Regions from separate parts of the Homo sapiens genome. Here region 1 is linked to region 2. Evidence: fine-mapped expression QTL. A gene starts in region 2. The other region holds a variant in brackets. All regions are shown on one strand. Distances are between the middles of the regions.

Region 1 (8,354 bases), 61 kb after region 2:
TAAAAAATAAAAAAGAAACATCCTTATCTTAAAGTCTTCTAGTATTAACAGAAGAAGCACCACATAACACAAAAACAAACACGCTTTTCTAAATACAAGGAAAACTGAATCCTGTTCAAGCTTTTCTCCAACTGTAAATATGCATGTCACTTAATTTTTCAGAACCATAGTTTTGTTAATTTGTTTTAAAGATGTAAAACTAAGAGTGAACAGTAAGACTTTGCTTGTCTTAGGACTCATCCATTGCAGGTTGACCTCCCAGAGATGGGACTGACTTCCTTCAAAGCTCCATGGCAACAAGCTATGGCCCAGTGATTGAGACAGTTTCTCAAAACTTGAACATCAGTCCCTCGGCATATCAAAGGAAGGGCTGGTATTTCCCCAGTTGTGAACACAGGTGTGCCTAATACTGTTGTTTATTTGTTACGCCATGTGACTTTAACCATCCGGCTTAGATCCCAGGCCTCTGCTGCATCAGGGGAGGGGTAACTGTCCCCCAAGCCTGCCCCAATCCAGAAAGCAGAGGTACCACAGTGGAACTGAAGCAAGGTTCATTTCACTTCTGATCCTCGCCCCTGAGTACATGAGAGGAGAAACCCACGTTGTGTGATCGTGAAACTTAAAGGCTCCAGGGCTCAAGGATGGAAATCTCTAACAGTCTCATGTCTGAACCTACTGTATCTCTTCACACTGACCCAAATGGTGATGAACAACAGATTAACCCTCTGACCCCTCCTCTATGAATTTTCCCCAGTAATCCCAACTCCAGCAGTTTTGGCATGGGTACTGTGTGGTCATTTGCCCTTGTTCGCATGACAAGAGTTTTGTGCGAGAACACTGAATTTCAAGATTCTAGGAATGAAAAGTTTCTGCATAGAAAATTTAGAAGCTCAATGTGATGCTTCCAGTGATGTCAAAGGACAGGAAGAGTTAGATAATATTACTCCTGGCAGAAAGTGATGTAAGAAAAAGAAATTTTTAGTAGCTTGAGAATGATTCATGCTTTATCAACGTTTATACTACATATGCTAGTTCATATTTATTTATTGAATATGCTAATACATTAATAAAACATTTCACTTAATATTTTATACATTGTATATTTGTTAAGTATAAGATTAAAATTAAAGTTTTAGGCTTATAGACAGTACTGATAATTGTATTTAAAAATTAAAGGCTTTTTTAGGCACATGTGCACAATGTGCAGGTTTGTTACATATGTATACATGTGACATGTTGGTGTGCTGCACCCATTACCTCATCATTTAGCATTAGGTATATCTCCTAACACTCTCCCTCCCCTCTCCCCCCATCCCACAACCATCCCTGGTGTGTGATGTTCCCCTCCTGTATCCATGTGTTCTCATTGTTCAATTCCCACCTATGAGTGAGAACATACGGTGTTTGGTTTTTTGTCCTTGAGATAGTTTGCTGAGAATGATGGTTTCCAGCTTCATCCATGTCCCTACAAAGGACATGAACTCATCATTTTTTATGGCTGCATAGTATTCCATGGTGTATATGTGCCACATTTTCTTAATCCAGTCTATCATTGTTGGACATTTGGATTGGTTCCAAGACTTTGCTATTGTGAATAATGCCGCAATAAGCATATGTGTGCATGTGTCTTTATAGTAGCATGATTTATAATCCTTTGGGTATATACCCAGTAATGGGATGGCTGGGTCAAATGGTATTTCTAGTTCTAGATCCCTGAGGAATCGCCACACCAACTTCTACAATGGTCGAACTAGTTTACAGTCCCACCAACAGTGTAAAAGTGTTCCTATTTCTCCACATCCACTCCAGCACCTGTTGTTTCCTGACTTTTTAATGATCGCCTTTCTAACTTGTGTGAGATGGTATCTCATTGTGGGTTTTTTATTGGTATTTTCATTTTGAAACCAGAGAGGGAAATTTGGCAATATCTAACAAAGTTGCATGTGCATTTATCCTTTACTCTACCAGTCCTTTAGAAATGATCATTAATTCGCTTCTAGCAATTTCATATTGTTGTTCCAAGAATATGAAAATACATATGTGCAAGATTATTTATTAAAATGTTATTTGTATTGGAAATAATCTATACATACACAAAAGGCAGGTTAAATAAACTACAATGCATCCACACAATTGATTATTATGCAGCTTTTAAAATGAATAATAAGGATATTTATGAGCTGATATGGACGTATCTTCAGTATATATTGCTAATTGAAAGACAGCGAAGAGCAAAACATTTTTATAGTATTCTACTTTTTGTATTAAAAAATGATAAATACAAAAAATATATGGCTTCACATTTTTGCAAAATGTTGATGCAACATAGAGTATACTAGAAAGTATTGACACTAGTATACCATGGGTGGCTGAGAATGGGGTGGGCTGGTTGGAGGATGACAATGGTGTAAGAAAAAATGGTTGGGAGGAGTGATATTTCTCTGGGTATTCCTCTTTGTATAGTTTCAGCTTGTGAATTATATTAATGTCTTACATACTCATTAAAATAAAGTATAATTAATATAATTAAGAAGTGGGGGAAAGCCCAAAAACAGGATAGAAACAAAAAACAAACTATATTTCAAATAAATAATCACAATAAAAAGTGGGGGAAAAAACAGCCGACCTAATGAGTATTATAATGCCATATTCCTTCTAGGTAAAGATAAAAACTGCAAACAAATGTTTGACTCCAGTCAATAAAGTTGTGTTTATTTTTACCATAGACACATGAGTTAGTAGTTCTGAAACTGACTATATATGTTACGACTGAACAAATGAATAAATACATTATGAATAATGAGAACCAGGTTTCTCACTATTAGAGAAGGGATTTAAACATATGAGAAAGGAGAATGTAGGAATAAACCCTGTGGTGTTCTATTGAAATTGGTGGTATCGGTATGAATTTATGGTTTTTAACATACAAAGATAAACAGAGCTGTCAGGGAAATACCAGTGAACAAAGTGAGTCCCTGCCTTCATCAGTTGATAATTTTAGAAGTAGGAAATAAGGACATAGACATCTCCAGTCACTGCAGAGACAACCTTTCCTTAGGATCATAAAAATGATTCATAAAATGATACAGTGTAACACCAAAGGGCGGAAATGCTGTCTTACGACTTTCTAAAGGAACACAGTGTGACTTTAAGTTAGAGGAAATTTCAGAAAACACCATTTCATGCTGCTCATATGAAGTGTCCATCTTTATCACTGCAGCATTGGTGGCCAGTGGCAAAGGCAGTGGGGGCTGATGAGGCAATGGCAGCCATGGGAGGCATCCGGGGAGCCCAAAACAGAAACTCATTTGTGAGACCTGGAACTATTGGCAGTGTGCTCACAGAGTTCCCAGGCATCAGAGTCCTTAGCATCCCAGAGCTGTGAAAGAGGCTGGAGTAGAGAGTAACAAAAGGGGATATGCTACAGAGGAGATGAAAGTTCTGTTAGTATGCATGCAAAAAGTCTCT[A/G]TGAGCCAAAGGATACCCAGTACTAATTGACTGAAAGTTTAGACTTTCTGTCCCTTTCAATAGTAGGTAGAGGGGAAAACTATATAAGTGTGTGTATGTATGTGGCACACAAATCCAAACACATCCACATATAAAAACAATGAGAATGATCTTAAACCCCATGGTATTGAGAAATATGATTGTATAAGATACCCCTAATTTACATGTTAAAATTTTAATGCCATTGGATATTGATTTATTTCAAATTAAGTAGATTTCTTTTTTAAGTTAAGTATGTAAGATATTCAAGAGTAAGAGGTACTAATGATACTCAATACATTTTAATTTTCTTCTCTGCTTCCCCTTAGCACTGCAGAAGTTAATTAGAAAACATACTGTATCCCAGGGGCCATGCTGAATTCCTTATATAGTCGGTCCTCCATATCTGTGAGTTCTACGTCCATGGATTCAACTAACCACTGATCATCAAAAATAGTAGGAAAAAAGTACTATACAGATGGTTGCATATGTATTGAACATGCACAGACTTTTTCTTGTCATTATTCCCTAAAAAATACAATATAACAATTGTTTGTATAGGATTTAAATTGTATCTGGTATTATAAGCAATCTAGAGATGTTTTAAAGTATGTGGGAGGGTGTGTGTAGGTCATAACAAATGCTACACCATTTTATATAAAGGACTTGAGCTTCAGTGGATTTTCGTATCTTCAAAGGGTCTTAGAATAAATCCCCCATTGCTACTGAGGGACGATTATATTCATTTTTGCACTTTATCCTCCCAATATTCCTTTCTCTTTATTTTACGGATGAGGAAACAAGGATAGGAAGATTAAGTACTTTGCCCAGATACAATCAGCCAAGGAACATCAAAGCATGTACTCAGTACAGATATAGTAGGACTCAAAGTCTTATACTTTTAAGCACTACCACAATTCTGCTTCCTGATGAAAACTAAAATTAGCTCATAGCTTGAATGAAAAATATATTCAAACTGGACATTTAATTTGAAAATAAATATTTCCTTTATATAAAGCTCTTAGGTAGATTACTTGTTCTGTATTCATGAAAATGTGTTCACTTTTGACAATGTGACATTTAAAACCTTTAGTTCAATGGTAGTCAGGCTTAGAATATGTCTTTATAAATTACATAGTGACTTAGTCCTATCAACTTCTATATATATATATATATATATATATATATTTTTTTTTTTTTTTTTTTTTTTTTTTTTTTTGAAATGGAGTCTCACTCTGCTGCCCAGGCTGGAGTGCAGTGGCATGATCTCGGCTCACTGCAACCTCCATCCCGCCAGTTCAAGTGATTCTCCTGCCTCAGCCTCCCAAGTAGTTGGGATTACAGGCGCCTGCCACCGTGCCCGGCTAATTTTTGTATTTTTAGTAGAGGCGAGGTTTCACCATCTTGGTCTTGAACTGCTGACCTCGTGATCTGCCTGCCTCAGCCTCCCAAAGTGCTGGGATTACAGGCATGAGCCACTGCGCCCGGCTGTTTCTATTATATTAAAAACCCATAATTATAAAAATGGTGACAAGAAATGGATTAAACCTTGAAGGGTCCTGGTTGGGTGAACATGAAGGAGCCCTTTAGAGTGCTATTTACATAGGTATACACATGTTTAGAAATTAAATGAGCTATGCAATTAAGATTTTGTGTGCTGTATTGTATACACTGCATGTCTCTATTTATTTATTTATTTATTTATTTATTTATTTATTTATTTTGAGATGGAGTTTCACTCATGTCGCCCAGGCTGGAGTGCAATGGCGTGATCTCAGCTCTCTACAACCTCTGCCTTCCGGGTTCAAGCAATTCTCCTGCCTTAGCCTCCAGATTAGCTGGGATTACAGGCACATGCCACCATGCCCAGCTAATTTTTGTTTTTTAATAGAGATGGGGTTTCGCCATGTTGGCCAGGCTGGTTCTGAACTCTTGACCTCAGGTGATCCCCCCTTTTCGGCCTCACAAAGTGCTGAGATTACAGGTGTGAGCCACTGTGCCTGGTAACCTCAACTTGAAACAGGAAGAAAAGAAGGGAGGAAGGGAGGAAGGGATGGAGGGAAGGAGGGAAAGGAGGAAGAGAAGGAGAGAGGGCAGGAATGAGGGAAGGGAGGGAGGAAGGAAGGAAAAAGAAGGAAGAAAAAAGAAAGAAAAAGAAAGAGAAAAAGAAAGAGAAAAAAGAAAAAGAAAGAGAAAGAGACAGAAAGAGAGAGAAGAAAGAAAGAAAAGAAAGAAAGAAGAAAGAAAGAAAGAAAGAAAGAAAGAAAGAAAGAAAGAAAGAAAGAAAGAAAGAAAAAGAAAGAAAGAAAAAGAAAGAAAGAGAAAGATGGAGGGAAGGAGGGAGGTGGGAAGGAAGGAGAAGGAGGAAGAGGAGGAACAGGAGGAATAGGAGGAGGAGGAGGGAGGGAGGGAGGGATGGGGAAGAAGGAAGGAAGAAAGGGAAAGAGAGAAAGAAAATAAATAGATAACTAGAGTATGTTATATGGTTGCTAGAACTAAATCAGGTGTTCAGTTTGGACATGTTGAAAGTGTAGGCATAGAGAAGACAGTTGAATATATAAGGAGGGATTTAGTCTAAAATGGAGATAAAGATTTGAAAATCATCTTTGTATAGACGGCACCTAAAGCCACAATACCACCTGAGATTCCTGGGAAGTAAGTGAAACAATATGCTAAATCCCAGAATTTAAAAAAGTTTGTGAAAATAAGAGCAAAGGTCCACCAAAAGTGTCAAAAACAAGAAGATGAGGAAAGGATGAAATAGTATAGTATAGATGCCAGAGAGACAGATGATTATTTAACTTTTATTTTTTATTACTTTATTTCACGGAGATGGATCTTTAAACTCTACAGCCTGGCACAATTATCTGAAGGAGAAAAAGAATGATCTAACCTGTGAGGACATAGTAAATAATTATTTAAATGCTTGGGGGATATTAAAAAACATTTCAAGGTGATCATGAGATCACTGTCAGTTAACAAGGAATAATGACAAGGAGGAAAGCAACATATTGATTAACATATGACAAATGGAAAGGGCAAAAAAAAATCTTGAAGCTGGGCATGGTGGTGTGCACTTGGAATCCAAGCTACTTAGGAGGCTGAGATAGGAGGATTGCTTGAACTCAGTAGTTTGAGGCCAGCCTGGGAAAAAAATAAAAGAAAACTTTGGCATTAATCTATGAGAAATTCCTCCAATTTAAAGTGATTTCATCATTTTTAAACCATGATATTATATGTAAAACAGTAAAATATAATTTTTAAATTTGCTACACTAAATTTGTTTCTTTTTGATAGTTTATAAATATAAATCAAAATTGATTCTGTTTTATAAATCTATATGTTATTGCCCACATTTAATCTAAAGTTTCAGCAGAATTCATTAAGTACTTTGTTCAAATGTGGGTCTATATACTAATATTATTATGGATATCTTAATCTAGTTGAAAAAATGCTTAATCTAGTTGAAAAATTACTACAGGGCTTAGTAACCAAAACAGCATGATACTGGTAAGTACAAAAACAGATAAACAGACCAGTGGAACAGAATAGAGAACCCAGAATTAAGACAGCACACCTACAACTATCTGATCTCTGAGAAATCTGACAAAAACAAGCAATGGGGAAAGGACTCCCTATTCAATAAATGGTGCTGGGGTAACTGACTAACCACATGTAGAAGATTAAAACTGGACCCCTTCATTAGACCATATATAAAAATTAACTCAAGATGGATTAAACACTTAAATGTAAAACCCAAAACTATAAAAACTCTGGAAGACAACTTAGGAAATACCATTTAGGGCATAGGCATGGGCAAAGATTTCATAATGAAGATGCCAAAAGCAATTGCAACAAAAACATAAATTAACAAATGGGATCTGATTAAACTAAAGAGTTTCTGTACAGCATAAGAAATTATCAACAATTAAACAGACAACCTACATAATGGGTGACAATTTTTGCAAACTATGCATCTGACAAAGGTCTAATATCTAGCATCTACAGGAAACTTAAATTTACAAGAAAAAATAAAACCTCATTAAAAAGTGGGAAAAGGATATGAACAGACACTTTTCAAAAGAAGACATTCATGCAACCAACAATCATACCAAAAAAGTTCAACATCACGGATCATTAGAGAAATGCAAATCAAAACCACAATGAGAGACCGTCTCACACCAGTCAGAATAGCTGTTATTAAAAAGTCAAAAAATAACAGATGTTGGCAAGGTTGTGGAGAAAAGGAATGCTTATACACTGTTGGTGAGAGTGTAAATTAGTTCAGCCATTGTAGATGACAGTGTGGCAATTCCTCAAAGACCTAAAGTCATAAATACCATTCAACTCAGCAATCCCATTACTGGGTATATACCCAAAGGAATATGAGTTGTTCTATCATAAAGACACGTGCACATATATGTTAATTGCAGCACTATTCACAATAGCAAAGACATGGAATCAACCTAAATGCCCATCAATGATAGACTGGAAAAAAGAAAATGTGGTACATATACACCATAGAATATTATGCAGCCATAAAAAAGAATGAGATCATGTCCTATGCAGGAACATGGATAGAGCTGGAGGCCATTATCATTAGGAAACTAACACAGAAACAGAAAACCAAACACCACATATTCTCACTTATAAGTGGGAGCTAAATGATGAGAACTCATGGACACATACAGGGGAACAACACACACTGGAACTTATCAGAGGGTGGAGGATGCAGGAGGGAGAGGATCAGGAAAAATAACTGATGGATACTAGGCCTAATACCTGGGTGATGAAATAATCTGTACAACAAACTGCTATGATACAACTTTACCTATGTAACAAACCTGCACATATACCCTTAATTTAAA
Region 2 (8,354 bases):
TTTGGAGGGGAGTAAGTTCAAGAGATCTATTTTACAGCGTAGCAATTACAGTTAATGGCAAATATTATATTCTTGAAAAGATGCTAGAAGAGTGGATGTTAAGTGTTCTCACCACAAAAATAAAAACTAAGAAAAGTAACGCATTTGTTAGTTATCTAGATTTAACCATTCCACAATGTATTTATACAGTAAGTCCTCATTTAACACAGTCAATACATTTTTGGAAACTGCGACTTCAAGTGAAACAACATACAGCACATCTTTTAATAACATCGTTTTTTTCAACATCATATCATTATAATGTCAATGAGAAAAAAATGCTGTTTTTATGCATCATTTTCCAGGACCTATTTGTGATGTATGAGGACTTACTCTACTACAAGACATGTTGTTCATTATAAATACATACGATTTTGTATGTCAATTTTAAAAATAAATATGTACATTGAAAAAAATCAAAGTTGGATTTGTTAACTTCATTCGGGCCCAAAGTTTGTTCATCCATTAATACCAACTCATCTCCAATTTTTGGTATATAAACATCTTTTATTTACCCATAAAGTGTATTCCTCTACTTGAATTCTTACAGCCATTACAATGGGCAATACAGATATTATCACCAATCACGTGGATTCATATGTTTTTCTACAGTTTTTTTTTTTCACATGCTAGTCTTACTGCTTCAGTAACTCAGGGACAGAATTTTTCAGTTCTCTTAGCACTCAGGTTAGTACAGTCAAAAAATGTTTTCTACACACCAACATTTTGATCCTCACAACACTAGGTATTATTTTTGTCTCTATTTTACAGGCAAGAAAACAGAATTGGATTAAAACCAAGACTAGCAAGAGTCAAGGACTTAGCAAACAAATACATCCAATTAGTGAAAGAAGCAAGACAGAGCCTTGTTTTCCCTTTTCCTTAAACAGAGACATACATAATTTTAAATATGGAAGGACTTTTTAAGTTATTTTGTCTGCTCCTTCACTTTTAAAATGAGATAAATGAATCATGTGATCATGATAAGCACCTTCACTGTTTTTTACATCATCTTTATAATATGCAACTATTGTAATAATGCAAATATTATCCCATATTATGGTGGATGCTGTTTAGGTATTGCACAGAGATCCCATCCCAGAGGCAATGCTTCTGTCCCCCAGATGTTGTGAGAATTAGCTACTGTGCCCACATCTGCCCCCTCTCAAGAGAATTGCCTTTGGCAGAGGAGAACCACCTTGTCATCTCCCCACTGTTACTAATGACTGACTGTTCATAGGTTTAAAAAGGCTGTCTGCAGCACTGCCTCTATTAATCAGGGAAGACTAGATTTTACCTGAGAACACATTCTTCTTTAGCTCTTTGTCCTCCCCTGACCTGCTTCACTCTTTTCCTTTCTGCTGCAATGTACTTCCTCAATAAATCAGAGCCAATGTAATTTGTGTCTCAGTGTATTTCTTGCAAACCTGACCTAAGATCGTGTGATCTTATATGGGTGTGTGCATGTGTGTTTGTGTGTGTGTAATAAATAATACACTGAATGGTGAAACACATAAATAATTTATAATTCTGATATTTCACTCATATAATTAGGCATTGAGTGACAAAAAGTAATCAGGATATTAACCAAAGGGACTGAGGAAGCAAGAGAAAAATGCAAATAAATTGACACACAGACTATACCTTTCTTGGAAATTAATAAGTCACTAAATTAAACCATTATATTAAAGGATAATTCAACAAAACAACAACTGATTTATAAATCTACTATTTATTAATGAGAGCAGAGTAAAATTAATTCTAATTCTAAAATGCACCTGAGTCTGTGCTCCTTAATTTATTGGTGAGGATACAGAAAATGAGAGATGCTCAATCATTTTGTTAAAGTCACCCTGACAGGCTTTGATAGAACTGCACCTTAAACACTTGAATTTCTGGTTAAACTATGATTGTTTCCTAAATACCTAAAACAAGAAAGACTTCTTATAAAGACTCCTGAATTGGCAGTTCAATCAAACAAAATGCATTCGTGGAAGACTTTTATGTACTCAGGAAATACCAGGCTTTGGAAGGGATAATAATACAAATGTTAATAATTCCATTTATTGAGTGTCACATGCCAAGCATCGCACTAATAGTTTAATTATGTATTCAGTACATTTTTATACACAAATTATGCTTTTCAGTCATTAAAACCAACGTATGATATGAAAATTCACATTTCAGAGAAGAGAAAACTGAAGCTCAGAAAGGATTTCTCAGACCTGGCAATTTCCAAAGACTGTAATCAGTAAACTATAGGTAGTTGGTAATAATGGGGAAGTAAAAGTCATAAAAAGCTGGGTCAAGAGTTCAGCTGTAAGGCAGGGATCCCAGTTGCCCTTGTAATAACTAGTCAGTTTTGGGTGGTCAGTGTAGAAATCCCAGGAAGGCAGCATTCAGATGTTGTTGTATCTAAGATGAGAGAAGGGCTGACTAGGAAGAGATGGAAGCTGTGCTTTATTTATTCATATTATAGACAATCTGGTTACACTGTACTAGTCAAAGCATAGGAATAGAAGAATAATTTTAAAGAGTAAGAAAAGGAGCATTCCTAAAACAAAATGTAATGATTAATAGCAACAGTCGCTAAGAGACTCATTGATAAGTTTCAATAGAATAGTGGGAATAGATTAAAATGTATATACAGGAACAAACTATTTGCTCTTTTAAGATGGAACTTAGATATCCAAATAAGAGCTGGAAGACACTCACTGCTAAAATTGGGAGACATGGATCATGAAGGGCCAGCAATGACCTTGGGACACGTAAATACAGAAAAGACAACCTAATCATGGGAAATGAGAGAACAAAGGTGACTAGAAACAGCCATTTTGGACACTTAAGGTCAGATTGAAGTCAGTCTGTCAGTCCAACGTGTGTATGGTATTTTGTGACCCAAAAAGACCACATATACTTATTTAGCTTAATAATAAATGTACCAATATTTGACAAGCAAAATGCCTTCTACATCATGGTGCATCTAGTGGTCATTTAGTCATAACTCAGTAAAAAGTTAGAGAAAAACTATCAAGTTTGAATAATGAGGCAAAAATATTTTTCCTTTTTATACTGTTTTGTGTCTACTTATGGTAATTTCTCACAGAACTGCCTATAGCTTAGTAAGTCAAACCATGTCCTAAAACTCAAGTGCAATCCCACAGCTTACAAATATTAGGGGTAGGTTTGTCTAGATACAGAAGAAAAGTGCATAAAGTGGGAGAGAATTAACACTGGAAATACTTACTACATGGCAGGCAGCTTACATATATTATGTATCACAATTAAATACAATTAATATTATTCCCATTTATGATAAATATGAAAATTTACAATCAGAATAATAATTTCCTAATAAAGTAGGTGCTGTGGCTCATGCCTGTAAGTCCAGAACTTTGGGAGGCCAAGACAGGAGGATTGCTTGAAGCCAGAAATTCGACACTAGCTGGGCAACATAGCAAGACTCTGTCTCTACAAAAAAATTTAAAAAATTAGCTGTGTATAGTAGTGCACACCATGGTCTCAGCTCCTTGGGAAGCTGAAATAGGAGATCCCTTGAGCCCAGAAATTCAAGGCTACAATGAGTTCTGATCTAACCACTGCACTCCAGTTTGGATGATAGAGTGAGATCCTGCTTCAAATAAAATAAAATATGATATAAAATAAAATAATAAAATATAAAAATTTCCCAATACACATTGGTATAGAAATTTAGCCCATTTCCATTAAAACAGAAATATCAAGCTTTTAACAACATTCTACACCACTAAGTAGAGAAGAGAATGGGCTGTGGATGCTTCTGGGTCTGGTCCTTCCCCACAAAATACATTTTGCCACAGAAAGAGGATTGTGTAGAAGGTTGTTCCATGGTGATTTTTTCCACATAGCTGATTTGGTTTATTGAGAGCTTCCACTTCACATGTTCATAAAGTAAACAGATTCTAGGAGTTACTTGGAGACATGGCAGCAAATGGTTAACCATTTTTTAATGGTAAAATCTGACCTGAGTTTCTGAGTTCTCAACTCTCTTATAACAGACATTTAGAAGTATCCAATTCTTGAACTCAAAATTAACTATAATTTTAAAATGTGCCTATTGTGTAGACATTGATCTGTGATTATACATTTTGTCACATTGATCAATAAAGCTAAATATAAAAATGAAAATGAACAGAAACTATTGAATTATGCACCACAAGGTGCAATCTATATGCCAATATGAGCATGCAGAAATGTCTGCGTGCTATGTATATGCTACTTGTGATTTATTAATTTATACTTCTTTATTTATATAAACTCAATATTTAAGATTATTGTATTTTAGAATCAGAGGAAATCTGAAATTGTTAGTCCACCCCACTTCATTATTGTGCTATGGAAACAAGCCTGGAATGATTGACATCTTCCATAGATGAACAGAACCAAATAATGATAATTTAGCTTGGAGATCAATATTATCTTTAATTTTATACAACCAGAAAATACAAGTAAATACAGCACATCTTTGAATATAGAAATACCAATGAGTTATGGTGTGTTTGGCCATTGAGTTCTGAAAGTCACTGTGGCCTTGTATTTACAAACATTAAAGATAAAATTATTATCCAAAACAGTAATGTCCAATAGATTATTAATAAACATTTTAGATAGCTGTAAAAAACATTGTGTTCTCTAGAGTTCATAAAAATTATGAGCTTAATTTCAATCCAACAGAAATAATTCTGAAAACTCTAATGTTGTGATGCTAATAATTGGGCTAAGAATTTTCAAACTATTGACTGGCAAAAACATGGATAAATTGTAATATATGAACTTCAAAGAATAAATGCACAATTACAAAACTTGATATAGCAATTTATTTTTAAAAGCCATTTGAGGAATCACCAAATAATTTCAAAATCATGACTAGAAAACCAGCAATGAAATTTGAGACTACTGGTATGACAAATCCTGTTTCAGGCCTTGTTGATCTAGAGTTACTTGCACAACCAGAATTTGCCAAAACAGGAAATAGGTGTTTCATATATACGGCTCTAACCTTCTCTCTCTGCACCTTCCTTCTGTCAATAGATGAAACAAATACTTCATCCTGCTCTGGAAACCACTGGTAAGTGATAACTCCTTTATTTCAAGGTGAACATTATTTATTTCAAGGTGAACAACACATTTATACCTTATCAATGATAAAGTGATATATTCGTATATTTTATCTACAATTTTCCAAAGTTTATTGATAACTTTTAATGAGAGTAATTATCTTAATATATTCATTTTAAGCTGAGAAGCTAATACATAGACAGCTTTATTATTCCAAAAGCACTTTTATCCAGTTTGAAATTTAAATAAATTTTTACCTTTCATTCTAAAGTAATATAACTAATTCCCATGTCTATGACTTGTGGAAACAATTGTACTAGAACTATTTTTAATAGAAAAATGAAAAACTATGAATATATGTGTGTGCATACTTTCACATCAGTAACTTTTACTAATATTAAAACATACAGCTATATGGGATGCCATAGCAAAAGTTTTAAATTGGTCAAAACAAAATTATAGCACTGATCTCAAGATTAAAAAGTATTTTATTAAAGACCATCAACATAAAATGCAATTTACCTCATGAAATGCACTCAGATCAAAAACAAAAAAAAAAGGCTTTTAGAAGTTTTTCAGTCAAAAGTCAGTCTACTCAGTCATGTTTATGTAGGTAATTTAAATATAATATCTATCGTGCATATTTCATCTAAGGAAGCAATTTCCACATACGGCTTTATCTTCCGTAGCATATTAGAAGTGATTCTGAAGAGTCAGATAGTAGGAGACCACAGAACTACCTAATGACAACATGAAAGGGGTTATTTACCACTAGACAGAAGATTTTAAAGTAAAATGCTTTTCTTCCCTGTGGCTAAATGCTATCCAGGAAACTCTGGGAGTATTTGCAATAGCCATAGAAGATCCGGTGTTGCCTCTTCTGCTAGTTAAAACCAAATCTAGAATGTCTGCCTGTATGACTAAGACCTCTGAAAGTGGATCAAAAGAAATTAAATTGATGACAAGTTTCAAGCCTGGGAGTTACCCTACATTGATAAGTTATGAGGTAAATTGGGGCTTCTGATTTGTAACAGGCAGGGATGAATTGGGAGGAAGAGTGTCAGAATTCTCAAGTAATGTAAATCTGATAATTGCTATGAATTTCAGTTACGTTATTTATTGAATTCAAGTAAAAGGGAGGGAATTCATCCTTGAAAAAAAAGTGCTTCTCAAGAAATGCAAGACAGCTATTCTTATTTGGATATCTTTACGAATTTCTTACTTGATGAAGTCTAGCAGTTTTGCAAACTTTGCATATTGGCATAGGCTGCTTTCTGTATCACAGATACATAATAAGATGAAAGAAAGTGATCAGAATAAAGATTAACTATTAAATTTTAAGTAAGAAAATATTGCATCAAATACTTTTCTGTGCTGTGACTAGTTTATAAATGTGTCTATACCTATAGTGCACACATTATACTCACATGTGTTAATGCTTTTGACATCTTTTCTAATCCACGTAATCCTTTAAAATATTTCTATAGTCTGTTCTTCCTCCTTTGCTTTTTAATGTTACGATGTTTGGTCTGTCTCTTAAGTTTTGTATTTTCCTCCACCAGTTGATTTATCTGTTCCTACAATAATATTAAATTTTTGTCAACAAATGTTTGAAGTCTATCTTAATAACTAATATGAAAAGATAACCCAATTAATTCTTTCTTTTTTTTCTTTTTCTTTTCTTCTTCCTTTTTTTTTTTTTTTTTTTTGAGATGGAGTCTTGCTCTGTCGCCCAGGCTGGAGTGCAGTGGCACACTCTCGGCTCGCTGCAACCTCCACCTCCTAGTTTCAAGCAATTCTCCTGCCTCAGCCTCCCCAGTAGCTGGGATTACAGACATGCACCACCATGCCCGGCTAACTTTTGTAGTTTTAGTAGAGACGAGGTTTCACCATGTTACGCAGGGTGGTCTCAAACTCCTGAGCTCAGGCAACCCACCCTCCTTGGCCTCCCAAAGTGCTAGGATTACAGGCATGAGCCACTGCGCCCAAGCAATTCTTCTTTTAAAAGTTTACTCAGTTATTCATAAGCCACTTAAAATTTGTATTGGAATTAAAGTAAACAATTATCAGGTTAGTTTAGGATTGATATCTTTATGCTAACATGTACCATTTAAAAGCATTACAAAACTCTCAATTTATTCAGAACTTCTGCTATGTTCTTTATTAAAGTTTTAAGATTTTTTCCAAAAAGGATTTTTAAATTTGTTTTGTTGTTTCCCAGATACTGTATAGTTTTTTTAACTGTTATAAGTGTTTCTTAAATCTTATATTCTAGTTGAGTGTTTCCAGTAATAGAAATGGTATTTTTGTAAGTTGATAGTGCATCTAGCAAAATTGTTAATTTTGGTGTGTTCTCCAGATAGATGATCTTATCATTTGAAAACAATAACAATTTTACGTCTTCTCTTACAAAAGTTACAAATATTTTATATATAATAATATATTTTATATTATTATATATAACATAAAATGTATACATTACATTACTTGTATATATTATATATATATATATGTATATACTTTCTTTTCTTATGGCTTTGATTAGGATCTCTCCAGTACTGTGTTAAATAAAAGTGTTAGTCATTCTTTTCTTGTTCCCAATATTAAATGAAATGCACCTAGAATTTCTCCAATAACCATTATATTGGGTATAGATTTGCAGTATATGCTTCCTACCAAAGTAATGATCTCTTCTATTTTTTCTTTAAAAAAAAAAAAAAAAAAAAAAACTACATACAGGGGTTGAATTTAATGACGTATTTTTTGTCATATTACTTTGCTTTAGTCTGTTAATGTGATGAATTTTACCAATGAATTTTCTAATTTTGAATTATTCTTGCAGTCCTCATATAATTTTACTTGGTCATGATATTTTTAATATATTTTTGAAATTGATGAGTTAATATTTTGTTAGGATTCTTGCAATTCATTTATGAAGTGGGCTTATGTATTATTTACTATTATTCTTACGTCTTTTATGAGTCAATCCCGGAATTATATCCACTCCTCAGATTACATTTCAGGAAAAAACAGCATTGGGAGGAAGTAGTCAAGCTAATTTGAACCATACAACACTAGGGAGTAAGAAGGCGTGAGTATAAGAGCACTGGAGAGTGCTATCACACATGACCTTATTATCATTGGTTCTTCACACAGGATGGTACTTTCGTTTTTTGTTTTTTTTTTTTTGGTGGTTTTTTTTTGTTTGTTTTTTTTGT

What was found.
Region 1: its variant is fine-mapped to the expression of CRISP3 in whole blood (TOPMed, PIP above 0.99).

What each region holds. Positions count from the first base shown.
Region 1 is chr6:49,680,015-49,688,368 of GRCh38, reverse strand. It overlaps a transcript of CRISP2 not described here. Among named protein-coding and RNA genes, the nearest start is that of CRISP2, 29 kb to the left of the region's middle. The variant A/G (reference allele first, on the strand shown) is at 3,469.
Region 2 is chr6:49,741,123-49,749,476 of GRCh38, reverse strand. CRISP3 (cysteine rich secretory protein 3) reads left to right here and starts at 5,089. Exons shown (of 8, transcript NM_006061.4): 1 at 5,089-5,146. The coding sequence starts at 5,110.